2 separate regions of the Homo sapiens genome follow, and region 1 is linked to region 2. The links come from fine-mapping of genetic effects on gene expression. A gene starts in region 2. The other region holds a variant in brackets. All regions are shown on one strand. Distances are between the middles of the regions.

What was found. PIP is the estimated chance that this variant, and not a neighbour inherited with it, causes the effect.
Region 1: its variant is fine-mapped to the expression of FBXW4 in putamen (GTEx, PIP above 0.99).

The regions. Positions count from the first base shown.
Region 1 is chr10:101,717,437-101,733,408 of GRCh38, reverse strand. It overlaps LINC03046 (long intergenic non-protein coding RNA 3046), which reads left to right and starts at 3,267. Exons shown (of 3, transcript NR_186546.1): 1 at 3,267-3,692. RefSeq lists enhancers at 3,104-3,603, 9,444-10,163. The variant G/A (reference allele first, on the strand shown) is at 7,806.
Region 2 is chr10:101,691,606-101,707,460 of GRCh38, reverse strand. FBXW4 (F-box and WD repeat domain containing 4) reads left to right here and starts at 12,291. Exons shown (of 9, transcript NM_022039.4): 1 at 12,291-13,080. The coding sequence starts at 12,356. LINC03046 (long intergenic non-protein coding RNA 3046) reads left to right here. Exons shown (of 3, transcript NR_186546.1): 3 at 5,166-5,484. RefSeq lists silencers at 12,122-12,401, 12,432-12,481, 12,762-13,221 and an enhancer at 13,532-13,611.

The DNA.
Region 1 (15,972 bases), 26 kb before region 2:
TGCCAATTTGGAGTTACCCTGTTGGAAAAAAAATAAAATCCCACTAGGCTGCTTTGAAAAGGGAAAAGGTGTATTCCTCCTTCATACTCATTGATTTCAAGTCCAACGGGCCAGATTTGCTCAAGCTTGGAATGAAAACTCTTTGCTTGGGGATGGAGCGAACTTCAGAAGGTTCCTGGCCAGAGGAAGTAGGAAAGCAAGGTTTTCTGTGTGACTCCTTGCAGCCAAACCTTGAGACAGACGTGGTCAAGCTGAGAAGTTTCTCAGAGAATCCAAACGGGATCCCCTGCTTGTCCACCTTTCCATGCACCAAGGGCCATGGGGACCTGTTACAATCACGTTGTGTTTGCTACAGGCAACTGCAGCTTCTTGCATCTTCATGCTACTGGGAGGTATCTGCTTTTTCCTAAGCCTGAAGACACAGCCTGAGAGAAAAAAAAACAAAAACACAAAGAGGACATGAGAGAAGAAGAGAGAAGGGAGGGTGAGAGAGGGTTGAATTGATCGCCGTCTGTTCAGGTCTAGCTGGAAAACACAATGAAGTGAAAAGGCTTCTTGGTTGGTGTGCTTCTCTTCATTTTTTTTTCCCAGGGTTTGAAGTGGGGAGGGAGGGATGGGAAAAAAAAAAAGAAAGGAAGAGGAGGAGGACTGGCATGGCCTGAGCCCAAGCAGAAGCAGCACGGAGCCTTCAGCCTTAGGAAGGGGAAAGTCATTTGGGGATTCTGGTACCCCCTTGGGTCATCCCTTATTGACCAATCCCTTCCTTCTATAAGCGACTGTGGCTGAAGGTGATGCTGCCAATATTGCATTTTAAATGAAGAAAAACCAAGTGGCTGAAGCCTACTCATCTCTGCCTTAGGAAAAAACAAAACAAAACAAAACACCATACAATTTTTCTTCCACTTGGTGGTGGGATGAGTGTTTATTCTGGTTTTATTTTTTTCCAGCATAGAGTATTTGCCAACTTTTATCATGTTCTTAGTTTGTGTTAAACATTATCCTAAGTGTTTTACATGTGTTATCTCCATTAATCCTTGCAACAACCTTGTGAGGTGTTGGTTCTATCATTAGTCCCATTTTACAGATAAAGAAACAGAGGCTCAGAAAGATTAAGGAAAGACCCCAAGGTCATGTAACTAGTAAGTGGCAGAAAAGGCTTCTTCCCCGTCAGTCTGGTCTCTTAAGCCTGCACTCTTAGGTGCTGCACCATGTGGATATTTAGATATAGTCTCTCAAATAGCTCACAGTTTATTATTACTAGGGGAGGAGGGTTGGAGCTAGGGAGGAGGGAGATGGATAGTCACACATGGAAGCAGCCACAGTACAATGTGTTATAGGCAATCCTAGCAAGTTGAAATAAGTTCTTGAAATAAAGACCAAAGAAGAGAATGATTTTTCTAGAGGCCTGGGATGATAGGGAAAACTGTCTTTTTACTTTTTAAAAGGTTAATAGGTGACTTTTATTTTCTTATTTACTTATTTTTTTAGAGACAGGGCCCTACACTGTCACCCAGGCTGGAGTGCAGTGATATGATCATAGCTCACTGCAGCCTAAACTCCTAGGCTCAAGTGATCCTCCTGCCTCAGCCTCCTGGGTAGCTGGGACTATAGGTGCATGTGCCACCAAGCCCTAATAATTTTTTTTTTTTTTGGGAGAGAATGGGCCTTGCTATGTTGGTCAAGCTGGTCTTGAACTCCTGGGCTCAAAAGTCCAAAGTGCCTTGTCCTTCCAAAGTGCTGGGACTATAGGCATGAGCCACCACACCTGGCCAATATGTGACTTTTTAGAAGGCTAAAAGTGCCAGAGAAGATCTGGGGAAGAAAAAGGGGTTCGCGGGGTGGTTAAAAGTTCAAGCTGTAGAGCTTACTGCCTGGCATCCAACTCAGCTCTGCCACTTAGTAGCTCTGTCAAGTTACTTGCCCCCTCTGAGATTCATCTACAAAATGAGGACACATGCCCATGCCCAGTGGCTCAAACTTGTAATCCCAGCACTCTGGGAGGCTGAGGCGGGTGGATCACCTGAGGTGATTTGGGAGGCTGAGGGGGACGGATCACCTGAGGTGATAACTCAACAACAAAAAGACAAACAATTCAATTTAAAAATGGGCAAAGCAAAGCCAGGCGTGGTGGCTCACACCTGTAATCCTAGCACTTTGGGAGGCTGGGGCGGGCAGATCACAAGGTCAGGAGTTTGAGACCATCCTGGCCAATATGGTGAAACCCCGTCTCTACTAAAAATACAAAAATTAGCTGGGTATGGTGGCGTGCGCCTGTAATCCCAGCTACTCTGGAGGCTGAGGCAGGAGAATTGCTTGAACCCGGGAGGCAGAGGTTGTGGTGAGCCGAGATTGCGCCACTGCACTCCAGCCTGGGCAACAGAATGAGACTCTGTCTCAAAAAAAAAAAAAAAAAAAGGGCAAAGGGGCTGGGCATGGTGGCTCACACCTGTAATCCCAGCACTTTGGGAGGCTGAGGTGGGTGGATCACTAGGTCATTAGTTCGAGACCAGCCTGGCCAATATGGTGAAACCCCATCTGTACTAAAAATACAAAAATTAGTGGGTGTGGTGGCACGCGCCTGTAGTCCCAGCTACTCGGGAGGCTGAGACAGAAGAATTACTTTAACCCAGGAGGCGGAGATTTCAGAGAGCCAAGATTGTGCCATTGCACTCCAGCCTGGGTGACAGAGTGACACTCTGTCTCAAAAAAAAAAAAAAAAAAAATGGGCAAAGGACTTGAATAGACATTTCTCCAAAGAAGATATTCAAGTGGCCAGTAAGCACATAAAAAGATGCTCAAGGCCAAGCGCAGTGGCTCACACCTGTAATCTTAATACCTTGAAAGGCCAAGGCACAAGGACGAGACCAGAAGTTTGAGACCAGCCTGGGCAACATACCAAGACCCCATGTCTACAAAGAATATATTAGCAGGGCCTGGAGGCACATGCCTATAGTACCAGCTACTTGGGAAGCTGAGACGGGTGGATTGCTTGAGCCCAGTGAGCTATGATTGTGCCACTGCATGCCAGCCTGGCTAGAGTGGTTACTATTTAACAAACAAACAAGCAAACAAACAACTCAGTGATATGGTTTGGCTATGTCCCCATCCAAATTTAATCTTGAATTGTAGTTCTCATAATCTCCATGTATCATGGGAGGGACCCGGCGGGAGGTAATTGAATCATGGGGGCGGTTACCCCCATGCTGTTCTCGTGATAGTGAGTGAGTTCTCGCGAGATCTGATGGTTTTTTTTTTTTTTTTTTTGAGACGGAGTCTCGCTCTGTCGCCCAGACTGGAGTGCAGTGGCGCAATCTCGGCTCACTGCAAGCTCTGTCTTCCGGGTTCATGCCATTCTCCTGCCTCAGCCTCCTGAGTAGCTGGGACTACAGGCGCCCGCCATTACGCCCGGCTAATTTTATTTTATTTTATTTTTAGTAGAGACAGGGTTTCACTGTGTTAGCCAGGATGGTCTGTGTCTCCTGACCTCGTGATCCACCCGCCTCGGCCTCCCAAAGTGCTGGGATTACAAAATGCGTGAGCCACCACGCCCGGCTGATGGTTTTATTAATATAAGGGACTTTAACCCTTTGCTCAGGACTTCTACTTGCTGCTGCCATGTGAAGAAGGACATATTTGCTTCCCCTTTCACCATGATTGTAAGTTTCCTGAGGCCTCCCCAGCCCTGCAGAACTGTAAGTCAATTAAACCTCTTTCCTTAATAAATTACCCAGTCTTGGGCAGTTCTTTATAGCAGCGTGAGAAGGCACTAATACACCCAGAAAATAACAAGTGTTGGTGAGCATGTGGAGGAATTGGAGCCCTTGTGCACTGTTGGTGGGAATTTAACATGGTATATATTAGATGCTATGGAAAATAGTATTTTATTTATTTATCCCTCAAAAAATAAAAAATAGCCATATGGGTACCATGTGACCTAGCAATTCCACTTCTGGGTATATACACAAACAAATTGGAAGCAGGGTAACAAGCAGCCATTTGTACACCCATGACCATAGCAGCATCATCTACAATAGCCAGAAGGTGAGAGTGACCCACATGTCCATCGATGGATGAATAGATAAATAAAATGGGATATATTCATACAATGGAATATTATTCAGCCTTTAAAAGGAAGGAAATTCTGATACATGCTACATCATGGTTTGAGGCTTTTCCTATCCAATTCTGCTTCCTTCCTCATTTGTCTTTCACAGGGGTTACTGCCCCCAACCACCAAAATCTTATTTTGTCTCTGCATCTGCTGCCCAGAGGACCCAACTGACACAAAGTTCAATAATGACTCCTTCTGCAGGATTTGTCCAGCCTGTCTGAAAATAGAAGGCCTAATTTCTCCTTCTTGTCATTCTACATCTTTCTCTCTCTCTCTCTTTTTTTTTTTTTTGAGTTGGAGTTTCACTCTTATTGCCCAGGCTGGAGTGCAGTGGCACCATCTCGGCTCACCTCGACCTCTGCCTTCCGAGTTCAAGCAATTCTCCTGCCTTAGCCTCCCGAGTAGCTGGGATTACAGGCATGCGCCACCATGCCCTGCCAATTTTTGTATTTTTAGTAGAGATGAGGTTTCTCCATGTTGGTCAGGCTGGTCTCGAACTCCCGACCTCGGGTGATCCCCTGCCTCAGCCTCCTTTGTATATGTATGTAAATCTATGTATGCATATCCCAAAGTGCTGGGATTACAAGCATGAGCCACTGCACCCGGACTGTTAAAAAAAACTTCTGACTTTCGTTCTTGATTAAAGCACTCGATTATTTAGCATTTATTAAATATTCACTGTTTAACATTATTCACGCTAACCTGTATTAGGAGGGCTTCCATTTCTTATCTCATTTAATTCTCAGGTGAGTCCTGTGAGATGAGGTGAAAGGAGAGTCTTGAAAGATTAGGTGATGTATCCAAGGTCACATTGTCAGAGGGTGACAGGTAGTTTGTTCAGATCTGGTTTTCACCCCCTTAGAGAGCCCTGCCTTCCTGTCTAGAACCTTCCCTGCCTCCATTATTCTCTATTCCTCTGCCAAATTTTCTATTTCACCATAGCATTTACCGCTGTCTGAAGTCACCATTCTCTGTGTTTATGGAGGACAGAGGGTCTGTCTTACTGACTGCTGTATTCCCAGAACCTAGAACAGAATCCGGCAAAGAGTCATTGAAAGGATGCTTAAACTCACCTTTTTTTTTTTTTTTTTTTTTTTTTTTTGAGACAGTCTCACTCTGTCGCTCAGGCTGGAGTGCAGTGGTGCGATCTCGGCTCACTGCAACCTCTGCCTCCCAGGTTCAAGAGATTCTCCTACCTCAGCCTCCCGAGTAGCCAGAACTACAGGCGCCCACCCCCACGCCTGGCTAATTTTTTTTTGTACTTTTAGTAGAGATGGGGTTTCACCATGTTGGCCAGGCTGGTCTCGAACTCCTGACTTCAGGTGATACACCCTCTTCGGCCTCCCCAGGTGCTGGGATTACAGGCATGAGCCATCCACCGGCTAAGCTCACCTTTAAGGCATGTTTATATTCATTGTTTTAAATAATAGGTCACATTTGAATAACACTCTACAGTTTACAGAAACTGTGTTTCTGCTGGCTGTCACCTCCCTTGGTCATCCTCACAGAAGCCTTTGGGGCAGGCCCAGCACAGGTTACTCCTTCTTCAGGGTCTGCTCAGACTTGCTGGTTCTTCAGCCGGGGATGCCCCCAGTTCTTTGCCTGCATCACTCTCTGCCTCCTTCTATGTCCGTTCCTCAGGAAGGCTGGCCCTGGTCTTGCAGCCCAGGTCAGGAACCCTGCGACATACTCTCTTCTCCCTTTGTAAGTCTCTTTGTGGCCCTAATCACAATGGCAGTGAAATCATTATGCCAGTATTTTATGATAGGCTCCCTGACTAGCCAGTGCTCCACGGGGACAGGGCCTTGTCATGCCTGTATACCTCACACACCCCTCACTGTGCCTGACACAGAGTAGGTGCTCATTAGATGTGTGTGTATTTGTATATGTATGTATATCTATGTATGCATATAAAATGAATTATTTCCAACAAATAGACTAGGAGATCGAAGCTCTATGGTCTCAGCCAGGGGTCCCCAACCCCCTAGGCCATGGACTGGTACCAGTCCATGGCCTGTTAGGAACCTGGCTGCACAGCAGGAGGTGAACATCAGGCATAACTGCCTGAGGTGTACCTCCCATCAGATCAGTGGCGGCATTAGATTCTCGTAGGAATGCGATCCCCATTGTGAACTGTGCGTGTGACGGATCTAGGTTGCCCACTCCTTATGAGAATCTAACTAATGATCTGAGGTGGAACAGTTTAATCCCAAAACCGGCTCCTCCACCCCATCCAAGGAAAAACTGTCTTCCGTGAAACCTGTTCCTGGTGCCAAAAAGGTTGGGGACCACTGGGCTAAGCCACTGGCTTGAAAACTTTTTGTTAGTTACCTATAGTAGAACGTTTATTGTTCATTATGACCCCAGGAATCATACATACACACGTGTACTTCCCCTTACTGTGGACTAAGCCCTGGTATTTTCTATTCTACTCAATTTATTTTATTAAAACATTTTTTAGAGCCTGGCGCCATGGCTCACACCTGTAATCCCAGCACTCTGGGAGGCTGAGGAGGGCAGATCACCTAAGGTCAGGAGTTCGGACCAGCCTGGCCAACATGGTGAAACCCTGTCCCTACTAAAAATACAAAAATTAGCCGGGCTTGGTGGCAGGAATCTGTAATCCCAGCTTCCGGAAGGCTGAGGCAGGAGAATCGCTTGAACCCAGGAGGTGGAGGTTGCAGTGAGCCGAGATTGAGCCGCTGCACTCCAGCCTGGGCAACAGAGCAAGACTCCATCTCGAAAAAATTTTTTTTTTAGTTCCAATCTATTTCATTGATTTCATGACCCACTAACATCTATGGAAGCTTAGCCAATGTGACTTGTTCAAGGTCCCATAACTAGTAGAGTGGTGGAAGCCAGTATTCTCCTGCCTATTACATTCTGGTGGGTTTCTTGCCCTAAGGCAAAACTAAAAGTTTTGTGTCAGTTTTGATAACAAAGGAAAAAATTCATTCTTTTACTTCTCAGTCACAGTTCAGGCAAGGCTGGTCTCACCATCTGCAGGCATTTCAATTAGGTTCATCGAGGTACTTCAGCTTTCTGCAATGTAGCTATCCAGAAGGTTCCTCCTAGAAGCTCCAAAGGGAAAGCTTTAGTCCTAATGGGTGGCACACCCAGACTTGCTGGAATTCTCATCCGAATTACACAAAACATTAACATATGGACAAAGGCACACTGCATATTAAATGATTTACTGGGGTCAAAGATCAAGTCAATGGCAGGCTTAACGTTAACCTGCCGCACGCAGATCCTCAGAGTCTGCTGGGCTAAGACACAGGGAAGCCTTGGCTAGGCTGGGCCCAGCAGCCCGGACCTGGTCAGTCATCAGCAAGTTAATCTACAACGGCACCTTCTTTTCCTACCAGAGGGAGGTTTGACTTGAACTTTTGGAAGACCTGCCTATTTGGAATCCAGATTCCTCTGCTTCAGAGGCTAATTTAGCTGGTGTTGGATGCAGAAGCCTAGAGAAAGCCGAAACTTATTTGTTCTTTTATTCCTGGATTTATAATTTGACCTAATATACTGTACGTCTGTACATATGTTGATCTCAGAAAATGTTTGAGCTTGCCTGCTGCTCAGGCCACGTTGGCAGACAGCTGTTAAAGCCATCAGCAATGTTTGCTTCCAGTTACAAAAGAAAACATTCTCTATTTGGGGCTATGTTGTTGTTTTCTTCTTTCCTGATTTAAAA[G/A]GGGAAGTATGTTTCCCAGTAGAGATGTGGGGCTGCCCCCATCCCCTTCTAGGGTTAAGAATGACTAAGAAAACTTTTCAGCACACCTGGCTCATCATCTTTCTAATATTCATACTCTTTTTCTCTCCCTGTGGAAGTATCCTCAGGGGCTTTGGTTTGAAATTATTTGAGCAACTGAGCAGGTTTCTCTCCTTTCCCTGGGGACACCAGTTTATGGTTCAACATCTCCCTCAAACACTGGTGTGTTTTTAGCTAAGAAAGACTCAGGTTTTGTCCCATTATCAGGTGCACTGACAAAATAACTGCTGATGGGAGTAAGAAAACACGAGTAATTCTAACTCCTGCCCAGAACCTTTGAAGGAATGCACAAACTCTGACCTTGCTTTGGTGCTTTGGAGAGACCATCTGGGGAAAACTTCATTTCCAAAAACATATATGAATTTGAGAGTTCCTCTGGCTGAGATGGAGGAAAAGCCATATGGTAAATGGCGGGGTGGGGGAGGGTCACATATGCAAATATTTGTTTCAGAGAAAACAACTCAAATCAGAGTTGTCCATGATACGTCCACCCTTGAATGCCTGACCTGTGCACTGGGGAGGAGGAGGGAAGGAGTAGAGATAAAGGGGAATGAAGAACAGAGAAGCCAGACAATGGCCGGGAAACAGGCCACAAAGGCAGGACACTTGCTGTAGGCTGGAGGTACTGTTGGAAATGTCAGACCGAAGTTCAGGAACCAGCTGGAAGCAAAAGAGGCAGGAAGGTTTGAAAATGAGGAATGGAAGTCTCTGAGGAAAATTTGGCTGCCTAAATGAAAGAGGCTTGGAGAAAAAAAAATGTCAACAAATAGTACCTCAGAGGAATCCAGTGACTATTAGGACCGCTCAAAAATCCATTTTGACTCAAAATTGAAGATGAGATCTGGGCTACTACATGGAAAGGTCTCAACAACCCCAGGATTTCTGGTTAAAGGGCACAGTCAAGTTGAAACTGCAAATCACCAAGCTAAGGTGTTCACTTGAACCACATGACGCCAAGAAATAAGGCTTATAAATGTTATCTTTTTTTTTTTAAATTTCAAATCCCAGCCAGGCACAGTGGCTCACACCTCTAATTCCACTTTGGGAGGCCAAAACAGGAGGAATCCCTTGAGCTCAGGTGTTCAAGACCAGCCTGGGCAACATAACAAGACCCCATCTCTATAAAAAAAAAAAAAAATTTTTCCCAATGAGCCAGGCATGGTGGCATGCACCTGTAGTCCTAGCTACTTGTGAGGCTGAGGTGAGGATTGTTTGAGCTCAGGAGGTGGGGCCTGCATTGAGCTATGATCATGCCACTGCACTCCATCCTGGGTGACAGAGCAAGACCCTGTCTCAAAATAATAATAATAATAAATAAAATAAAATTCAAATCCCAATTGTTCATTGCTGGTATTTAGTATATGACAGAAACTGGCTTTTGTATATTGATCTTGTAACATGGACTCTCTCTCCATTTATTTAGATCTCTGATTTTCTTCACCAGTGTTATGTAGTTTTTCTCATATAGATCCTGTATTTATTTTGTTAGATTTGGGCCTAAGTGGTTTTTGTTTTGTTTTGATTTTTGTTGGTGCTATTGTAAATGGTATTTTTTTTACATTTCAAATTCCAATTGTTCCTTGCTGGTCTTTAGGAAAGCATAAAAAACAAGGCTTTTTTCTTCTTAACTGCCATTCTGAGTTTGTACCCAAAACTACTCCTAGTGAGGGAAAGCTGGGGCAGGATGGGTCAGTAATCACAGCTGTCCCCTTCCCATCTTTCCCTCCCCTTCACTCTGTAAATGTTTGTTTATTTCATTTGACTGAATTGATGTTATGCTAAAGAACAGCCAGGGAGGAGAGGTACTGTTAAGAAACAGGGGAAAATTCTAAGTCCAAGGTTAAGATCACTGGAGAAGAGATGTTTGAACTCTTAGTGTTTGAGACAGAATGGAGGGTGTGGGAAAATTAATAGCAATAGCACAGTGAGAGAGAGAGGGTGTTTCACCAAATGAGGTGGGCACGCTGGGCGAGGTGGCTCATGCCTGTCATCCTAGCACTTCAGGAGGCTGAAATGGGCAGATGGCTTGAGCCTAGGAGTTTGAAACCAGCCTGGGCAACATGGTGACACCTCACCTCTACAAAAAAATACAAAATTAGCTGGGTGTGGTGGTGCGTAACTGTGGTCCCAGTTACTCAGGAGGCTGAGGTGAGAGGATTGCTGAAGTCCAGGAGGCAGATGTTGCAGTGAGCTGAGATTGCACCACTGCACTCCAACCTGGGTGACAAACCCTGTCTCAAAAAAAAAGATGGGGAAATAGACACCTGGTAAATATGATACCTAGGGTTACATGTAACAATCTACAAAAACAGTATATGAATTGAGTTCAAACTCCCATTTTTGGCCCAGAATAATTAGAGTATAAATAAGGTTTTTGTTTTTTATTTTTATTTTTTTAAATAGAGATGGGGGTCTCACTATGTTGCCCAGGCTTGTCCCAAACTCCTGAGCTCAAGCAATCCTCCTGCCTTGGCCTCCCAAAGTGCTAGGATTATAGGCAAGAGCATGGCCTAAGTCATTGCTGTTACTGTTTATGCCAATGCTTGTTTCAGAAAAACAAGAAGATTGCAAATGTGATAGTCTCTGTGCAACTTGGAGTTTGCTGTTGATATGAGGCTTATTGGTTGTGAGAAAGTAGGACTTTCTGTGGGATGAGAAAAAAATGAGAAGATTCACCCTTTTACTCAAGTGCCTGGCAAGTTACCTAGGAAGTAGTGTTCAATAAATGCATATTGAACGAATCTGGAAGTAACTAGGCAACTTTGATCTTAGCATCCAAGTGTGTGATGGTGGGGACAGAGTTGAGTTTAAGCAACTGTTATCAACAGAATCTACAGTAACAGCTAAGTCAGGATTCATTTGGCTTCCAAGAGTTGTTTGTTTGTTTGTTTTTAAGACACTTTTGGCCTGGCATGGTGGCTCAGCCTGTAATCCCAGCACTTCTTTGGTGGGGCAAGGCAGGAGGATTGCTTGAGCCCAGGGGTTCAAGACTAGCCTGGGCAACATAGCAAGATCTCATCACTAAAAAAATAAAAAATTAGCTGGGTATGATGGCACATGCCTGTAGTCCCAGCTACTCAGGAAGCTAAGGTGGGAGGATTGCTTTAGCCTAGGAGGTTGAGATTACAGAGAGCTGTGATCATGCCACTGTACTTCAGCTTGGGTGACAGAGCGAGACCCTGCCTCAAAACAAAAACAAAAACAAAAAATGAAACACACACACAAAGTAAAGAAAAGAAAATAATTTTTTTTTAGAGATAGGGTCTCGCCATATTGCCCAGGCTGGCCTTCAACTCCTGGCCTCATGCATTCCTCCCACATTGGCCTCCCAAAAAAGTGCTGGGATTGCAGCCTGAACCACCATGCCAGGCTGGCTTCTAATAGTTTTTAATGAGACAAAGGGTAGAGCTATACTCTGTACAAAAAGGGTGTTGCTTACTCAGTGACCAAGGAAGCTGAGAGACATGGTTCTGCCTTGGATTGCAGGTGAACTATCTGTGGATTCACACCTTCCCTAAGTCTGAAGAATGTCTGCTGAGCTGTCAGGATGAAATGTGTAGCTGGGAGGTATGCGGGTGTGCTAGAGAACCGAGTAGTGATAGGATGTCCCTCAGAATCTCTTCTAATCAGAATCACCTGTGATTCTTTTGGATTGTGTACAGCTGTACTCCAAGATGCCCTTGAGCTGTGGTGAGAGTTGTGCCCTTTGCTGGAGGGAGTCTAGTTCATGGTGACCACAGGGGGACACCTCCTGGCATGCCAGAGCCACGGCTTGGAGGAGAAGTCCCTGAGCCTTAAGGGGTAGGGACAGAAGGTCACCAAAGAGATAATAAGTGTAGCAGGGGAACCATTTCTAAAAGATCTGCTCTGAGTCACAATTAATTAAGGTGTAGGGGAAAGGGTACCTTCTTACCAAATGCCCAGGTGTCATTCTGGGCCCCAAGAAAATAATTTACACAAGTTTCTCACCTGGAGCGTTTCCCCCAAGAACTGGCATATTGTTTTTGTTCCTTTCATGCCTCCAAAAACACTGAAGAGGTTTCTTTAGGTGGTTACTATACCCAAGAACACCGGCATTTTCTTCTTAGGCAAGGACCTCAAATTCAACCATAATACTACTTTAGAGACTAACAAATGTTCATGAACAGTTAAATACAGAAGGAGGTTTTATGATGTGAGGCCATGAGCATGAACTTTGCAAGCAGTAGATCTGAGTTCAGTTTCCAGTTTTCCTGTACATTAGCCTTGTGTCCTTGGACAAATCACTTGACCTTTCTTAGTCTTCGAGAAATAGGGATGATGAGAATAATAATATCCTTTCTGTTAACTTTACAGGCTACTGTTGTAAGCTAGGAGGTGCTGTGCATTCATTTTAATTATTGTTGGGACAAACTGATATCAGGGCTCTCTGAAAACTGCCTCAGGAGAGAGTCCACTTAGAAGGACTGATGCAAGCCTTATGGACCTACTGACACAGGCAGGTCATGAAGCACAGGGAAAGTGAAAAGGGTCAGCATAAATACTTAGGGCCCGCACAGTGGCTCACGCCAGTAATCCCAGCAATTTGGGAGGCCGAGGCAGGCAGATCACTTGAGGTCAGGAGTCTGAGACTAGCCTGGCCAACATGGTGAAACCCTGTCTCTACTAAAAATACAAAAACAAGCCAGGTGTGGTGGTGTGCTTCTGTAATCTCAGCTACTTGGGAGCCTGAGGCAGGAGAATCCCTTGAATCTGGGAGGCAGATTGCAGTGAGCTGAGATCACACCACTGCACTCAAGCCTGAGCAATAGAGTGAGACTCCGTCTCAAAAATAAATAAATACATAAATACTTAGCATTTCCTATGTGGGAAACATTCTTGATACGGAGGTGGAAAAGTGGGGTTGGGGGAAGAAATAGTAGATAGTAGATAGTTAGCCGGGAGCGGTGGCTCACGCCTGTAATCCTACCACTTTGGGAGGCTGAGGCGGGCGGATCACGAGGTCAGGAGTTCGAGACCAGCCTGGCCAACATAGTGAAACCCCGTCTCTACTAAAAATACAAAAAATTAGCCGGTCATGGTGGCGCGTGCCTGTCATCCCAGGCACTTGGGAGGCTGAGGCAGGGAATCGTTTGAATCCGGGAGTTGGAGGTTGTAGTCAGCCAAGATCTGCCATTGCACTCCAGCCCGCGTGACAGTGCGAGAATCCGTCTTTAAAAAAAAAAATAGATAGTAGAAAGTTTGGCTCCTTGACAGGTCACTTGGAGAAGAAAAATACACTGTAAAAAAGTATAACCAATACTAGGTAGTACTGACCAATGCCAAATCAACGGAATAGCCAGGGAGTGCTTAGGACTGGTGTGGGAAGGCTTTCAAGAGGGATAAAACATATCTGCTTTGATGGATGGGCAGGATTCAGATAAAAGAAGACTTTTCCAGAAAGAGAACAGTTTGGAGCAAAGTTCAGAGGCCAAACAAGACCTTTGTGTTACCTATCAAACACTCAGTATATATCTGACATTGTGCTAGCTTCTTTTACATTCTGTTGTCCAGTTTAACATATACATAATAGTACAACAAATTAGGCTTTGTTATCCCTATTTTACAAATGAAGAAACCGAAGCTCAGCAAGATTCAGTATTTTCCCCAGGGTCCTAATAAAGCAATGGCAGACCCAGGGTTCAAATCCACATAGTCTAACTCCAAGTCCAAAGATTTTTCCAGAATATATGCTGCTTGTTTGGCAAAAAGGAAATAGGTCAGTTTGGATGGAATGGAAGGCTTCATGCTGGGGCAGTCAGGATGCAGAGAGGTCAGGGGAAACCAGAATACTGAGTGCTAGGCAAGACGGTTTGGATTGACCAGGAAGCCCTTGGGTGGCTCAAGCTTTCTGAGTAATAGAAGGACATAACTGAAGTTTGTTCAGGATTCCCAGGTCTAAGGCTTTGTCAGGGCATAAGCTATACCAATTAATAATTAGTTCTGGGCCGGGCATGGTGGCTCACACCTGAAATCCCAGCACTCTGGGAGGCAGAGGTGGAGGCTGGTGGATCATTTGAGGTCAGGAGTTTGAGACCAGCCTTGCCAAAATGGCAAAACCCCGTCTTCACTAAAGATACAAAAATTAGCGGGGTGTGGTGGCGCACTCCTGTAGTCCCAGTGCATGCCTGTAGTCCCAGCTACTTGGGAGGCTGAGGCGGGAGAATCACTTGAACCCGGGAGACAGAGGTTGCATTGAGCCGAGATCGCACCACTATACTCCAGCCCGGGTGACAGAGGGAGACTCCGTCTCAAAAAAAAAAAAATATTAGTTCCAAAAGGAGAAAGCTACTACCCTGTCATTTATTCTGGGATGTTTCCTCCTATTGAACTTATTTTTCAGTTTATTTTCTCAATTGTGTTATTCTTGGGTACTCTTAAATACTTCTGCAACTTCCAGCACAGAGATAGCATCATATTTCAGTAGTGGACAAAGTAAGAAGGATTTAGATTGGTCCTGGATCCAGTAGTGAACTGCAGAGATGAAAGTACTCACACACAGACTATTTTAGCACCCCAAGTACCACTGAATCTAGCCTTCCATTAAGAGGCTCCTACATTCTTTTCCTAAGCTGAAGGTTTCAATGTAGGTCAATGGTGAAAGACAAATTGTTGGAGGACTAACAGACAATGCTCACTCTTTACATTGTGTGTGGGAATTTCTCAGCTGATTCAATAGATGTTTGCTTGGGTGTTAAGCATGTAACAGCAGTAGCAATTCCTTCTGTCCTCCCATCCCTCTTTTAAACTTCATTTTAAAATGGACATTGATTTCAAAACTTTAAAAAAGTTTATGTGCGATGACGCAGCAATATCACTGTTAGGAATTTATAAGCAAATGTAAAGCAAAGTCTAAAATGTGAATATGCAGCACTCTTATAATGCCAAACATTTGGAAACACCTAAGTTTCTAATAATAGGGAATTGGTTGAGTAAGTTATGGTACATCTTATCCAGTGGAATGCTGCACAGCCAATAAAATGACATTGTTGAAGAACATTTTTTTTTTGTTTTGAGACAGAATTTCGCTATTTTTGCCCAGGTTGGAGTGCAATGGCGCCATCTCAGCTCACTGCAACCTCTGCCTCCCCGGTTCAAGCGATTCTCCTGCCTCAGCCTCTTGAGTAGCTGGGATTACAGGCGTGCACCACCATGGCCGGCTAATTTTTGTATTTTTAGTAGAGATGAGGTTTCTCCATGTTGGTCAGGCTGGTCTCAAACTCCTGACCTCAGGTGATCCCCCGCCTCAGCTTCCCAAAGTGCTGGGATCACAGGCTAAAGCCACCGCGCCCAGCCCTGAAGAACACTTAATGATGCAGAAAAATGTTAACATTACGTTAGTCACAGTTTAGGCCATTGTTTGTTTATTTATTTATTTATTTATTTATTTTGAGACAGGGTCTTGCTCTGTTACCCAGGCTGGAGTGCAGCGGCACAATCTCAGCTCACTGCAACCTCCGCCTCCCGGGTTTGAGTGATTCTCCCTCCTCAGCATCCCGTGTAGCTGGGATTACAAGCATGCGCCACCATGACCTGGCTAATTTTTGTATTTTTAGTAGACACTAAGTTTCACCATATTGGCCAGGCTGGTCTCGAACTCCTGACCTCAGGTGATCCACCAGCCTTGGCCTCCCCAAGTGCTGGGATTACAGGCGTGAGCCACTGTGCCCAGCCTCATTGTTTAATTTTTAAAAGTATATAACCACTTCACATACATTATTATAAAAACAAAACATGTGGGCAGGGGGCTCACACCTGTAATCCCAGCACTTTGGAAGGCCAAGGCAGGAGGAGAACTTGAGCTCAGGAGTTTGAGACTAGCCTGGGCAACAAAGTGAGACCTCATCTCTACAAAAAACACAAACATTAGCCAGGTGTGGTGGTGTGTGCCAGTGGTCCCAGCTACATGGGAGGCTGAGGCAGGAGGATCACTTGAGCCCAGGAGGCCGATGCTACAGTGAGACATATATTGCACCACTGCACTCCAGCCTTGGCAATAGAGCGATACCTTGTCTCAAAAACAAAAAACAAAAAAACACAGGGCTTGGTTTGTGACTCACATCTGTAATCC
Region 2 (15,855 bases):
TCATTGCTTACTTAAATGCAATGAATGAATTTTGTTCTGTTTCCTTCTGTCAATAATTATCCTATTTTCACAATCTGGGTATTAATTTTGATCTACCTTCAGATATCCCAGTTAACACATTGCAAATCCCCACTCTCCCTTCTGCACTGTAGCTCTCTATTGCAAAATAAGGGCAATTTCTTTCATTATGGACTCTTCCATTTACCCAAAACATGCTCTAAAAATGCCCTTTCACTTTTTGGAGAGTCCCCTTAGAGATGAAACGCTTTTCAATAGGTAATACATGCAAATAGTTAATAAACATTTAAAAGGCATAAAATAGTATACAATTGACAAGAAATTCTGTCTCCCATCCACCCAAATTCCCCTCCTTACAGGCAAACACTGGTACTAGGTTTTTGTGTATCTTTATGGAGATATTTGGTGTACATGAGTCAAAGCACACAAATACAGTTTTCCCCTCCACAAATGGCAATATATTATACACACTGTTCTGAATTTTGTTTTTTTCTTCACTTACTGTATATTAGAGATCCTTCTCTAGTGATACATACAGTCTTTCTCATTTTTTTCACAGCTGCTTATTATTCTGTTCTACGGATATTCCATGATTTATTTAAACAGTTTGGGAGACATTTGTTCCCAACACTTCTATTCTCTGTCAGTGTCTTGTTCCTTCTCAGGTTGTTTCTATGACTCTATCTTGGATACTGTTGAATATGTGATTTTATTTATAACATGGAAGACTACTGAAAAATAATTTAAATTTTATTTTCTAAATGTTTTAAAACTTCAAAAAATTGCCAAGAGTGATGTGGGTTTATAGTTTTTAAAAACCAGCATTGTGAAAGCTGTATGATACCAAGACTTTTTTTTTATTTTTATTTTTTGAGACAGGATCTCACTCTGTCACCCACGCTGGAGGGCAATGACACCATCTCTGCTCACTGTAACTTCTGCCTCTCAGGCTCAGACAATCCTCCTACCTTAGCCTCCCAAGTAGCTGGGACTACAGGCTTGGGCCACCATGCCCAGCTAATGTTTGAATTTTTTTTTTTTTTGAGACAGAGTCTCGCTCTGTCACCTGGCTGGAGTGCAGTGGCCCGATCTCGGCTCACTGCAATCCACTTCCTGGGTTCAAGCGATTTTCCTGCCTCAGCCTCCCGAGTAGCTGGGACTACAGGCGTGCACCACCATGCCCAGCTGATTTTTGTATTTTTAGTAGAGACTGGGTTTCACCATGTTGGTCAGGATGGTCTTGATCTCTTGACCTCGTGATCTACCTGCCTCGGCCTCCCAAAATGCTGGGATTACAGGTGTGAGCTACCGTGCCCGGCCTAATTTTTGTATTTTTAGTAGAGATGGGGTTTTGCCATGTTGCCCGGGCTAGTCTTGAACTCCTGGGCTCAAGTGATCCACCCGCCTTGGCCTCTCAAAGGGCTGGGATTATAGATGTGAGCCACCATGTGGAGCCCAAGACTTTCAATTACTTCTTCTCAGTCTCCTCATAGATCCCACTTAGATTGGGTCATGACATAACTGCTTAAACACTTAAAATTCTGTTGTTCATTTATTTCTTATGTGGGCTAACATAAGACACACATAGCATCAATAACTTTCTTCTAATAGCTGATATTAACTTTAATTCTCTTACCCCTGCAAAATATCATTAAATATTATTACTTTACACATCTTTAATTAAACTCCAACATGCTATCTCATACGTGACTAAAGACTCAAATCAGAAAAATTGCAACATCTGGTTGACCTCAATTCTTTTACAGGAGTTAAGCAAGCTATTGGGTCTGACCATTGTGGTTCCTCTCCTATTGTTGTATGGTCCAAGAGATGGAGGTTTCTTTTGTTTGTTTGTTTGTTTGTTTTTTGAGATTTAGTCTCGTTCCATTGCCCAGGCTGGAGTACAGTGGTGTGATGTAGACTCACTGCAACCTCCGCCTTCCGGGTTTAAGCAATTCTCCTGTCTCAGCCTTCCAAGTAGCTGGGACTACAGGAGCCTGCCACCATGCCCAGCTAATTTTTGATTTTTGTTTATTTTTGAGATGGAGTCTTACTCTGTCGCCCAGGCTAGAGTGCAGTGGCGTGATCTCAGCTCACTGCAGACTCCGCCTCCCTGGTTCAAGCGATTCTCCTGCCTCAGTCTCCCAAGTAGCTGGGATTACAGGCGCTCACCACCGCACCTGGCTAATTTTTGTATCTTTTAGTAGAGATGGGGTTTCACCATCTTGGCCAGGCTGGTCTCGAACTCCTGACCTCATGATCCACCCACCTCGACCTCCTAAAGTGCTGGGATTACAGGCATAAGCTACCGCACCCGGCCTAATTTTTGTATTTTTAGTAGAGATGGGGTTTCACCTTGCTGGTCAGGCTGGTCTTGAACCCCTGACCTCAGGTGATCCACCCGCCTTGGCCTCCCAAAGTGCTGGGGTTACAGGTGTGAGTCACCGAGCCCGGCCAGAGATGGAGATCTTGAGAGATTATAAAGGTGCTGGGTTGTGCCACATATCTGCTGAGCTTGGTGCAGTGTAGGGAATGCATGAGCACCTGGTCAAAAATTCCTCTCTACTCATTAGTTGCTGCATAGCATTTACAGACCCACACCCTTGCCAAGAGATAATTTGAGCTCTTAGCTCTGTCTTGCCAGGGCTGATATCGATGTAATTATTGTTTGATTCTACTATAAGACTGAATTCAGTTTCAGCTTTTTAATTTGTCCATTTCACTTCTCATTTATCAGCTTCTATTGCAGATGTGAAGTTTAGCATTTCTTTGCTCACTCTTTTACTGGGAAACTCTTCTAGCGGAAAGCCTGTCATCTGTTGTGAAGGAGAGCTGGTGTTGACTTGAAGCAACAGAGTTGGTGGTCCAGTGGCCATTGTCCTGTGTTAGGAGCAGGTGGTCTCGCTAAGCTCCATGTGTTTGGAAATTTCTCTGACCAGTGCTTGTTCTGCTAAAGGAAGAAGAGCTCAAGCTGCACTCCTTGTTTCCAGGTCAATCTACTGAACCTGGGAAAATCCCCAGGGGCTAGCTTGAACTTCTTCCTGCTTTTCTCTTCATGGTGGATTTTAAACATAGGGGATTTTCCTCATTCATCTATTTGTATTTCAAACAGCTGCTATAAGAAAGGGGAAAAGGCACATTTTATAGTACATATTTTTAGAAGCAGTGACATAGTTTCTCAAAGGATAACAGTTAAATTTTGGTCCAAAGACTATAATTGCTCTTTACTTGGTGGGTGGGTGTGTGTGTATTTTATATATATATATATACATATGTGTGTGTGTGTTGTTTTTGAGTATGTGTGTATACATTTTTTACTAAAGTAAAAAACAAAAAAATTAAGATCTATTCTTATTCCATTCACATTAAAACTTGTGTTTATATTTAACAACTTAACACAATCCACCATCTGTTGAAGATACTGTATGAATGATACTCCAGAAAAGTTGTCCTGTGTGTTTTTCACATTTTTTTCCACATTTTTAACAGGACTTGAAACCTAGGACAATATAAATAAATGATATCCTGTGGTTTCATTCAGTGTAATAAATGTCTCAAATGAAAAAAATTTACTTAAACTTTGGCATTGTTAAATAGTAGTAATAACAATAGAATCAGAAATAAGAATTTTGTATTTAACCTGGCACTTTCTTCCAGAAAAACTAAAGATGCTTGGGAGCAAATTTTTTCTAGAACTTAATTCTCATTATTTTCTTGGAAAAGAACTCATAAGGTCATATTTGTACATATTCTATCTTAGTGGTGACTGATTATTTACTTATACTTTTAAAAAGAACCTAGAATCTGAAGGCAAGGTAAGAAATCCCCAGTGATCATGAAAATTTCACAAGGTTTTGTGGTTCCCTTCATCTTCAAGTTTTTTTTTATCTTCTATCATCTGTTACCAAATGACTCAGTCTTCTGACTGGCAGAGACCAGAAAAATCACAAAACCTTTTTTTTTTTTTTTTTTTTTGGAGAAGGTCTGTCTCCCAGGCTGGAGTGCAGTGGCATGATCTCAACTCACTGCAACCTCCACCTCCCAAGGGTCAAGCGATTCTCCTGCCTCAGCCTCCTGAGTAGCTGGAATTACAGGCGCCTATCACCATGCCCAGATAATTTTTATATTTTTAGTAGAGACGGGGTTTCACCATGTTGGCCAGGCTGGTCTCAAACTCCTGACCTCAAGTGATCTGCCTGCCTTGGCCTCCCAAAGTGCTTGGATTACAGGTGTGAGTCACCACGCCCGGCTTAGAAAAATCACAAAATCTGATGTCACATGGCAATGGCAATACAAGAATTTAATCTTAGATCTGAATGCTGATGGTATGCTCTATATTTTATTCAAAATCTCTTGGAATGTACACTGTTGACACAAAGAAGGCCATTGCCTACTAATAACAGCATTACTAACTGGCAAAACCCCTGGAGATCTGTTTTTTTTCCCCCCAGAAAAATTACATTGTATATTTCTATCCTGCCCACCTGCCCACCTCCTTACTTACTCTACTGTTCATTATAGACATATGGTCCTTAACTTTTGTAGACATAGCTATACATTTACATACCATATATTTAAATGCATACACATATATAATTTATATAAAAATTAGTGATGGGAAATGTCTGTTTTTCTCAGTTATAAAATTAGGACAGTGTCTTGGAATGATGTTATGTGACCCTTTGGAAAACATCTTACAGCTGTTGTCCAGGCTGGAGCATAGTGGCGGGATCATAGCTCATGTAACCTCCAACTCCTGGGCTCCAGTAATCCTCCAGCCTCAGCCTCCTGAGTAGCTGGGATTACAGGTGCCCACTACCACACCTGGCTAATTTTTGTATTTTTTGTAGAGATGGGGTTTCACCATGTTGGCCAGGGTGGTTTTGAACTCCTGACCTCAAGTGATATGCCCTCCTCAGCCCCACAACGTGCTGGGATTACAGGTATGAGCCACCACGCCCATTCTAAGATGAAACTTTAAAAAACTTTTTTAGAACAGTTTTAGATTTACAGAAATATTGTGAAGATAGTAGAGCGTTTCCATAGACCCCTATTATCACATTTTACAATATTATGATTGTTATTATTAACAAACCGATCCAATTTCCTTAGTTTTTATCTAATGTCCTTTTTCTTTTCTGTTCCAGGATCCCATCCAGAATACATTACCTTTAGTCATCATGTCTCCTGTGGCTCTTCTTGGCTGTGACAGTTTCTCAGCTTTCCCAGTTTTAATGAACTTGCCATTTTCATCAGATTGTACCAAGACCTACTATCAATATGACTTATGACTAGTGGTGCTGACCTTGATCACCTGGCTGAGGTAGTTCTTGTCAGGCTTCTCCACTGTCGAGTTGCTCTCCCCATCCCCCTTTTCCATATTGTACTCTTTGAAAGAAAGTCACTATATGCAGCCCTTCCTTAAAAATATTAAAATGAACTAGCTTAATTAAGTTCTTTCTTACATTTAGGTGTAAATACCTCTGAGGTTTTTTTCTTTTAAAAAATGATTATCTATGTAATACATACTCACTGCACAAGACTTTAAAAATGCAAGAAAAGTATAAAGCAGCAGCAAATAGAACTACCCATAATTCCATCTGTCACAAGCAACCATTTCTAGCTTTTTGTCATATTTCCTTCCAGTTTTTTTTCTTCTGCATAAAATAACTATTTTTATTTCTATTTATTTATTTTTTTGAGACAGAGTTTCACTCTGTCACCAGGCTGGAGTGCCGTGGCACAATCTCGGTTCTCTACAACCTCCACCTCCCAGGTTCAAGGGATTCTCCTGCCTCAGCCTCCTGAGTAGCTGGGACTACAGGCGTGCACCACCATGCCCAGCTAATTTTTGTATTTTTAGTAGAGACGGGGTTTCACCATGTTGGCCAGGATGGTCTTGATCTCTTGACCTTGTGATCCACCCGCCTCGGCCTCCCAAAGTGCTGGGATTACAGGCATGAGCCATCGCGCCTGGCCAAAATAACTATTTTTAAATAGCACTTGCTTGAAATTATTTCATAGGTGGTAAAAATATTTTATCTTTGAATATGGCAAAGAAGATGGATTCATATAAAACCAGAGCAGATCTTGGTGGTACTTCAAGATATAAACTACCAACCCAATAGATAATTTCTGAAAATAACATTTTAGAGTCTCTTCCTCTATTTTTGAGAAGCTTGAATATTTACAAATACAGCATTCACTGTGAGACTTCTTGTTTCTTTTCCTTTCTAAGACTTTTAACTTGTTGTTTATTTTACTATTACATGAAACACATTTTATTTTAATTTTTAAAGTTTTAGTGTTTTTTGAGACAAGGTCTCATTCTGTTGCCCAGTTTGGAGTGCAGTGGCATGAACATGGCTCACTGCAGCCTCAACTTTTTGGGCTCAAGTAATCCTCTAGCTTCAGCTTCACGAGTAGCTGGGACTACAGGTATACACCACCACACCTACCTAATTTATTCTTACAGTTTTTAGAGACGGGGGTCTCGCTGTGTTGCCCAGGCTGGTCTTGAACTCCTGGGCTCAAGCAATCTTCCTGCCTCAGCCTCCCAAAGTGCTGGGATTACAGGGATGAGTCACCATACCCAGCCTTATTTAAATAAGGTTTGAGGAAACTTGGGTAGCTGGTTAAAACTCTGGCAATGATCTAGGTTTCAAATCATCAAATTCCTTTTTGCATGGTGTATAGACTCATGACAACTCTTATTTTTTTAAAGACTTTATTTTGTACATGCTTCTTATTAAAAAATTAATACAGAAAAGTACAAAGTAAAATCCCAAAATTCTATCACCTAAAAAAACCATTATTAACATTATTCCACAAACCTTCCCTTTGCATATATACACAGAGAGATAAATTTACACAAAAGGCTCACACATACCATACATAGTTACTAAATGAGGATGAAGCAAAATGAAGAAATTGAAGAAAATGAAGCTGAAACAAAATGAAGGAATTACCAAATTTTAGCTAAATGTTCTTTTGCAAGACACTTTAGTTCCTAACAATCCCTTTGAAGTTTTGAAAAAAGATTATGAAAAGCATTAAGAGTTTGAAAGTCTACATAATTAACTTTTTTTTTTTTTTTTTTTTGAGACAGGGTCTTGCTCTGTTGCCCATGCTGGAGTGCCTTGGTGTGATCATGGCTCACTGCAGCCTTGACCTCCCAGGCTCAACTGGTCCTCCCACTTCAGCCTCCGAAGTAGCTGGGACCACAGATGTGTGTCACCAAGCCCGGCTAATTTTTTAAAATTCTTTTGTAGAGACAGGATCTTCCAGTGTTGCCCAGGCTGGTCTTGAACTCCTGGAGGCTGGTCTTGAACTCCTGGGCTCAAAAACAATCCTCCTACCTCAGGCTTCCAAAGTGCCAGGATTACAGGTGTGAGCCACCGTGGCTGGCTGGAAAACTCTTCTAATAGTGGCTGGCATGTAGTAAGTGCTTATAGTAAATGTAAGCCAATGCTATTATAGAGGAATAATGGTGAGCATCTGGGCCCACGTATGATATTGAAATCTGTCACTCACAAAATAATCTCTTTGTCTCTCATTCATCTCAGAATAATTTTCCTGTTAAATCTACCAGCTCCTGAGGGGCCCTGAGGGTATAACCAATGAGTATGTGGGCACCAATGTAATGAATGTGTGAATAGGTGATTCTGTCATCTGTTTATAAGAATGACCAGAATACAAAATTCTAGCCTTTTTACAATCCTAAACATATACTATGTGCTACCAATAACAGCAACAATCACCATCATGCATGTCACTTACATGTACACACTAACATAAAGAACTTTATATCTCTGCTTTAAAATCCTCTTTAAAAGTAAACTATTAGCCTGGGTAACATGGTGAGACCTTGTCAATGAAATAAAAAAATTAGCCAGGCACCTGTAGGCCCAGCTGCTCTGGGGCTGAAATGGGAGGATTGCTTGAGCCCAGGAGGTCAAGGCTGCAGTGAGCCAAGATCATGCTACTGCACTCCAGCCTAGGTGACAGAGTGAGACGCTGTCTAAAAAAAAAAAAAAGGTAAATTAATGTTAGTGTTTCTAAATACCCACAAAATTATGAAATTTATATTATGTCTTAAGTTTTTTTTTTTGTTTGTTCGTTTTTGAGATGGAATCTCGCTCTGTCACTCAGGCTGATGTGAAGTGGTGCAATCTCAGCTCACTGCAACCTCCGCCTCCTAGGTTTAAATGATTCTCTGGCCTCAGCCTCCTTAGTAGCTGGGACTACAGGTGTGCGGCACCACGCCTGGCTAATTTTGTACTTTTAGTAGAGACAGGGTTTCACCATGTTGGCCAGGCAGACAAGCCTGACCTCAGGTGATCTGCCTGCCTCGGTCTCCCAAAGTGCTGGGATTACAGGCATGAGCCACCACACCCAGCCAATATTGTGTCCACTGTTTTCAGTTTATTAATCTATAAATTAATTTTTTAAATAAAAAAGCTTTATGAAAACAAAGGTAGATTTCACCTCCCTGCCTTATTTCATGATGATTCCTGAATCTGAACTTCAAGGGAGTTGATGACTTTTACTTAAAGATGTTCTGGGCCGGGCGGGGTGGTTCATGCCTGTAATCCCAGCACTTTCAGAGGCCAAGGCGGGTGGATGGTCTGAGATTGGTAGTTCAAGACCAGCCTGGCCAGCATGGTGAAACCTCGTCTGTACTAAAAATACAAAAATTAGCTGGTCGTGGTGGCAGGTGCCTGTAATCCCAGCTACACAGGAAGCTGAGGCAGGAGAATCACTTGAACCCAGGAGGCGGAGGTTTCAGTGAGCCGAGATCTCGCCATTGCACTACAGCCTGGGCAACAGAGTGAGACTCTGCCTCAAAAAAAAAAAGATGGTCAAGTCCACCAAAGTCTTTCTACCTTCCTCTTTTCTGAGTATTAATATATTTATTTTCTTTGATAGAAAAATGCTATTCAGGTCCTTCATGAAGACATGCATTTACTTTTATTACAAACTCATCTTTTCAGCCACATCTTTTCAGTTGCTTTTTTATTTTTGACACTCTATCCCAAAAAAGAATTTTAAAAGTAAATTTTATGATACAATTTTTAAGTTTGGTTACATCCCAAATTGGATTTTTCTTTGTTGGCAGGGAAAGGGAGAGTTGATGAAATATTCTAGCTGCTTCTCTGAGCTAAGGCTAAAGGTTTTCTTCTTTGTTGTTTTCTTTATCACATGTTTGGTAATTTAGGGACACACATCACCACCAAATAACAGATTATATGCCAATTTTCCATTTTGGCTTTGCTTTTTTTCCTGCATAGTGAGTATGTTGACTTTTTTGGAAATCATTACATTACAAATTCTAGGCTAAGAGTTTACCTGATCTCTAGTTTGAATGTGAAAGAGGATGATTTGATGTTTTTTTTTTTTTTTTCTCTCACCCAGGCTGGAGTGCAGTAGCGCGATCTCGGTTCACTGCAAGCTCCGCCTCCCGAGTTCAAGCAATTCTCCTTCCTCAGCCTTCCCAGTAGCTGGCGCCTGTCGCCACGCCCGGCTAATTTTTTTGTATTTTTTAGTAGAGACGGGTTTTCACAGTGTTGTCCAGGCTGGTTTTGAACTCCTGAGCTCAGGCAATCTGCCCGCCTCGGCCTCCCAAAGTGCTAGGATTACAGGCGTGAGCCACCGCGCCCGGCCGCTTTAATGATGCGCCCGGCCGCTTTAATGATGACCGCTAAATGATGCTTTAATTTCTCCATTAATGAGGGCCGGGGGCAGTGGCTCACTCCTGTAATCCCAGCACTTTGGGAGGCTGAGGCGGGCGGATCACGAGGTCAGGAGATCGAGACCATCCTGGCTAACATGGTGAAACCCCGTCTCTACTAAAAATACAAAAAATTAGCTGGGCGTGGTGGCGGGTGCCTGTAGTCCCAGCTACTCGGGAGGCTGAGGCAGGAGAATGGCGTGAACCCGGAAGGCGGAGCTTGCAGTGAGCCGAGATCGCGCCACTGCACTCCAGCCTGGGCAACAGAGTGAGACTTCGTCTCAAAAAAAAAAAAAAAAGAAAAAGGCCGGGCAAGGTGGCTCATGCCTGTAATCCCAGCACTTTGGGAGGCCGAGACAGGCGGATCACGAGGTCAGGAGATCGAGGCCATCCTGGCTAACACTGTGAAACCCCGTCTCTACTAAAAATACAAAACAATTAGCCGGGCATAGTGGCGGGCGCCTGTAGTCCCAGCTACTCGGGAGGCTGAGGCAGGAGAATGGCGTGAACCCGGGTGGTGGAGCTTGCAGTGAGCCGAGATTGCGCCACTGCACTCCAGCCTGGGCGACAGAGCCAGACTCTGTCTCAAAAAAAAATTCTCCATTAATGAAAATAAAGTAAATTACACTTGCATGATTATGGATTTTAATCCTGATTTATGTTGGGTTAAAGAAGTTTTAGTGCCTCCACTAAAAATGAGATAGAATATAGATGAACTACTCAGCTTTACTATGTATCCTGAATGAGTTAAGTACTCAAACAGTAAGAAATTACAAACATCTCTAACACAAATCTAAACACAAAATGCAGGAACCATATTCCTGCTATATCATTTGTCTTCCTTCTTGATTCGCTCATAGTACACAAATGTAGCAAAATCAATAAATATTGAACTCATGACATCACCTAAATGTGAAGTATTCCTGCCTTAGTAGTCTTCTAACAGTATGGTACCTGTGAATAAGTAAATTTCTTTATAATGATCTCTAAAACATGGCTTAAATTCTTTGGCCGCATTGAAATCTATAAAATAGTGCTTTCAATAAACCACTGCCTTGAGTTTGGAAATCGTTTTCTACACAAAGTCTTTGTTGCATTTGGAGAGGGGGAGGGATGGCATTTTTTTGTAACAGGATTTGACCTGTAACTATTATTAAGAATTTTCTTAGAGGAGTTCAAAGCATTTTACAGGGATCATCTCATTTATCCCTCGAAAGTAAGGCAGAGGCATTATCTCCACTACAGATTGAGAACACTAAAAGGCCAAGATAGGTGGGGCTTTTTGTTGTTGTTTTGCTAAGATCAAAAAGTAATTCTAGGGCAAAGCCAGATTCCGGTCTGACCTTGTTACATGATGCTTCTTGCAGCACCATAATACAATGTAGTTGCTTCCCTAGGTTTCTCTTTGGCTATGCTAGGTGTTGAATAATTTTCAGGGTCAATTTTTATTCTTCCCTGCTCCCTGAAAATGAGTGTTAAGATGTAGATAAGTACAAAAGAAAACTCTCCAATCCTTCCTACCTGGATTTGGAGTACAGGATAAACAGACAGAAATTGGCATCTTCCTCCCCTCCTCCAAGTTTTACTGCCTAGCCCAATGCTAATAGAAAAATAACCCGAGCCACAAATGCAAGTCCCATGTATAATTTTAAATTTTCTAGTAGTTACATTAAAATATATTGTATTTAGCCCAATACAGCGTATCCAAAATATTAACACTTCAACACGTAATCAATATAAAATTATTAATGAGATATTTTGCATTCTTTTTTTTGTATGGCTTCAAAATCTGGTGTGCATTTCTCACTTATAGCTCATTTCAATTTGTATTAGCCACATTTCAAATGCTCAGCAGCCACATGTGACGAGGGAGGACACTGTTGGACAGCACAGGTCTAGACCTCAGTAGCTCTCCCTTCAGATTAATGCCATGTGAATCGAATGGGTGGTATGAAGAATGGATGCTGAGTCCTTGGAGAATCCACTTGCACTTGGGTGGTGACTGATAAGAAGCCCTAGCTGTGCCATTTCCTGATACATGACTGTTTTTGAAGTTATGGACTCAGGATCTAGAAGACTGCAAATCCCCAAATACGTCTAACACCCAAGCTCACGCCAGGACCGTGCTTCCGGGCCTGTGTGAGAACCTAAGCTATGGAACCTGTCAACTTCTAGGGCTGCAGATTCGTTGGGCCCTCACATGTGGCCCGTGGAAAGGAGGCATCACTCGAGGAAGAGGAGGGCTTCTAGAGGGGCAAGGCCACCCAACTAGGGGCTTCTTGAGGGCAGGTGCTCCAAATGGCCGCTTCCTGAGGGCAGCGGGTCCTCTTGTGGCCTCAGGCAGGGCCCTGAAACCGGCCTCACGTGTTTGCAGCGCGAACTCCTGTGCTTCCACCAAGCGCTCTCGGGGATGCGGGGGTGGTGTCAGCGCCCCGGCCCCAGCCCGCACCCCGAAGTGGCTCCAAGGCTGCAGGTGTGAGGGGCGTGCCCAGGGCTCGGCCCGCGCCGCCCCATGTGACCCGGTCCGACATGGTGTCGCCTCCTCCCGGGGCGGCGGCGGTGGCGGCTCGGGCTGGGCTCCGCGTCGGGCCGGCCCCGCGGCCGCTCATGGGCAGCCAGGGCCGCTCGGGGCCCCCCGGGAACGGCGGGCCCGGCGAGGGCGAGGGCGGAGAGGCGAGGAAGCTGCAGGAAGGGAGGGTGGCGAGGGGGAAGCGAAGGAAGGGGAAGGGGAAGGGAAAAGCGAGAGCGGGGCAAGGCGGAAGAGGAAGCGGGGCGGAAGGGAAGCCCGGGCCGCAGACGGCGAAGGAGGCAGCCGGGCCGGGGGCTGACGCGGGAGCGAGGGCATGCCCAAGGGAGGAAGCAGAGGGAGGCAGAAGCGTGGAGGAAGGGGCGAGAGGCATCGTCAAGGGAGTCGAGGGGAGCGCAGGGGCCGGGAAGGAGGCACAAGGAAGAGAGTATGGGAAGAAGGAGGAATGGAGGGTCAGGGCTAGGCGGCGGGAGGGCGCCAGGCCGGGAAGAGCACAGGGACGAGGGGGTCAGGCTTGGGCCGACATCGCGGGGACAGGGGTGGCCATGGCGGCGGCGGCCGGGGAGGAGGAGGAGGAGGAGGAGGCGGCTCGGGAGTCGGCTGCCCGCCCGGCCGCGGGGCCTGCGCTCTGGCGCCTGCCGGAGGAGCTGCTGCTGCTCATCTGCTCCTACCTGGACATGCGGGCCCTCGGCCGCCTGGCCCAGGTGTGCCGCTGGCTGCGGCGCTTCACCAGCTGCGATCTGCTCTGGCGCCGGATAGCCCGGGCCTCGCTCAACTCCGGCTTCACGCGGCTCGGCACCGACCTGTAAGCGTCCGCTCGCCCGCCCGCTCCCCGCCCCGAGCCGGCCCCGCGTCCCGGGAAAGGGCGGGGCGCCGCGGCCTGGTCGGCCCAGGGTCGTGTCGCACCCCGAGTTTCTAGGCCTACACCTGACCTCCGCCTACACCCTTTCCCGAGCACTCTCGGGGACCCCTTTGCCCCTCCTCCCCAAGGCCTCCATCTGAGGCAGCCTCCCGAGAGCATCCCTCAGTAGGCACCCTCCCGGGTGGGCCGCTCCTCACAATTAGCCATCTTAGGCACTCCCTACAGCTTTCGATTGTGTGTTTTTGCAGAGGTTTAGCTGCCCCGGTTCCTTCGCCCCAGAGGAGCCAGTCTGGTACGGTGCTTTGGACGATTCCTTGAGTCCAGGTCTAGGACTCAGGTTCCTTAAGTGGTCTATCATAAATTTTTGTGGACTTTCATCTTTCATCCTCCCTACCCTTTTCTAAAGGTTGTTAAGCTTCAGGGCTCGGACCTTAAGAGAAGCCCTCGGTCCCAGTGTTCAGCCATAGTTTATGACTTCATATAGGCAGAGCGACACGAAAAAGGGGGCCTGCTTGAGGCAGGAGGCTGGAGTCTGTCCAGGATGTGTACAAGACATGGTATTGCAATTTGGCCTGTTTTTGGTAGGGTCTGAGACCTGTGAATGAAAAACTTTTCTGAACCACTTAAACTGTTAAATAGGAAGGAAAAAACATGTAGGGAATTGGGGGAATAAGAGCTTTCAGATTGCCCCCTATTCCACCCATTTTTTAAAAAGTAGTTCTTTCTAGTACATTATGACAACATTAAATAACGTTTTTAAAAACATAAAAAGCCATAATACCATCACCTCTAGACAATTATTTTCATTTAAAAACCTTTTCAGTTGCACATATAATTGCTATCTTACTGATCCTAACAGAATAGGTACATAGTAAATGTTTGTGGGCTGTCGCATAATGAGATTAAAGAACATCCCTCTACTATTAAACTTACATGTAGTGTTCAGCTTTTTGTTATTATAGATAATAATGAAATAATGCATTTTTGAGTAACAGCTTTACTGAAATATAAGTCACATGTCATTACCATACATATTTTTTAAAAATCAGTTCCTTAGGATAAAGTCTCAAGGTGGCATTATAGCAAAGGTTATGGTTTGCAGAGGTGCTGTACCAAATTATAGTGGGACCAGCACAGAGTGAACAAATTTTATGTGAGAATTTAGAAAATCTTTGCCACTTTAGTGGTCATTTAAGGTACCAAAGTTGTGTTATTTTGCATCTCTTTTACCACTGGCTGGGATAAATATATTCCCATGTGTTTGTTTCACCTGGGAGACTGTCTCTTCCCACTCTTTGCCCATTTATTACTGGGGTCTTCTTGTTTTTCCTATAAATTTGGAATCTTTGTGGGTCTTAGATGTTAGAATCTAGTCTGTCATCTTTGATCCAGATATTTTTCCCAGTCAATTCATTTTACTTTACTGTTTTACACTTTATTAGGCTCTGCCAGTCTTTTGTGATTTTTTTCTCTTTTTCTCCCCAAAGCTGAGAAATTTATAATTCCTCCACAGACCTGATAAATCTGTTTCCCACTGGTTTTCTTACAAATTTGATTTTTTTTTTTTTTTTTTTTTTGAGACGGAGTTTCACTCTTGTTGCCCGGGCTGGAGTGCAGTGGTGTGCACTCGGCTCACCACCTCCTGGGTTCAAGCGGTTCTCCTGCCTCAGCCTCTTGCGTAGCTGGGATTACAGGCATGCACCACCACACCCAGCTAATTTTGTATTTTTGGTAGAGATAGGGTTTCTCCATCTTGGTCAGGTTGGTCTCGAACTGCCGACCTCAGGTTATCTGCCCACCTCGGCCTCCCAAAGTGCTGGGATTACAGGCATGAGCCATGGCGCCTGGCCTAATTTAATTTTTTAATAGTTAACACTTTCATCAATATCACTTTTGGTGCAAGAGGTGAATTCAACTTACTATTGTTGTCTACAACTTTGTTAAGTAATTCTCTTTTCCTTTGTTTTGGACAGCTTATTTTGCCATATAATAAGTTTATATATATATTATATATAATATACACATGTATATACACATAGACATATATGTGTGTATATTGGATCTATATCTGAACTCTTCATTGTGTGTCACTGATACAGTTTTCCATTTCCATACTATTTTAAATATTGTTACTTTTTGATAGAGTCTAGTAATCTGTCAGGGTAAGATTATCCTGTTGGATTTATGTGTGTGTGTCACTTCTACACTTCTGTTCAACTCTCTGTCAAAAAAAAAAATTCTGTACTTTTTCAAGGACTTTTGTGGTTTTCATGATAAAGTTCTTACATATCTGTTGTTGCACTTACTCCTATGTATTTCCGAAAATGTTATGCATTTCGTTTTTATTGCAAATACACTCTCTTCAGTATGTTTTCTGGCTGGGTATTACTGAATGTAGAAGATTACTCTACTCTTGTAAATTTTGAATTTGATGGTTTTTTATTCTAGGATGATTGTATTCATGATAATGGTTCCTTGGGACTTCTTGGGCATGCAGTCTTGTCACCTGCAGAAATAGTTTTTTATTCTCTTCCTTTCTCATGAGAATAACTCTTTCAAAGAATATTATCAGTTAACCTATAAGAGAAGTCTAAAGTGACTGTAACCCAAGCTAGCTAAGGCAAAGTTTGGCTTTCTCTCTCTTCATATAGAGATTGAGTGAATGAATGAAAGAATTGATGTTTATTTTCAAATGCTCTAAAAGAGAGATATTGGGAA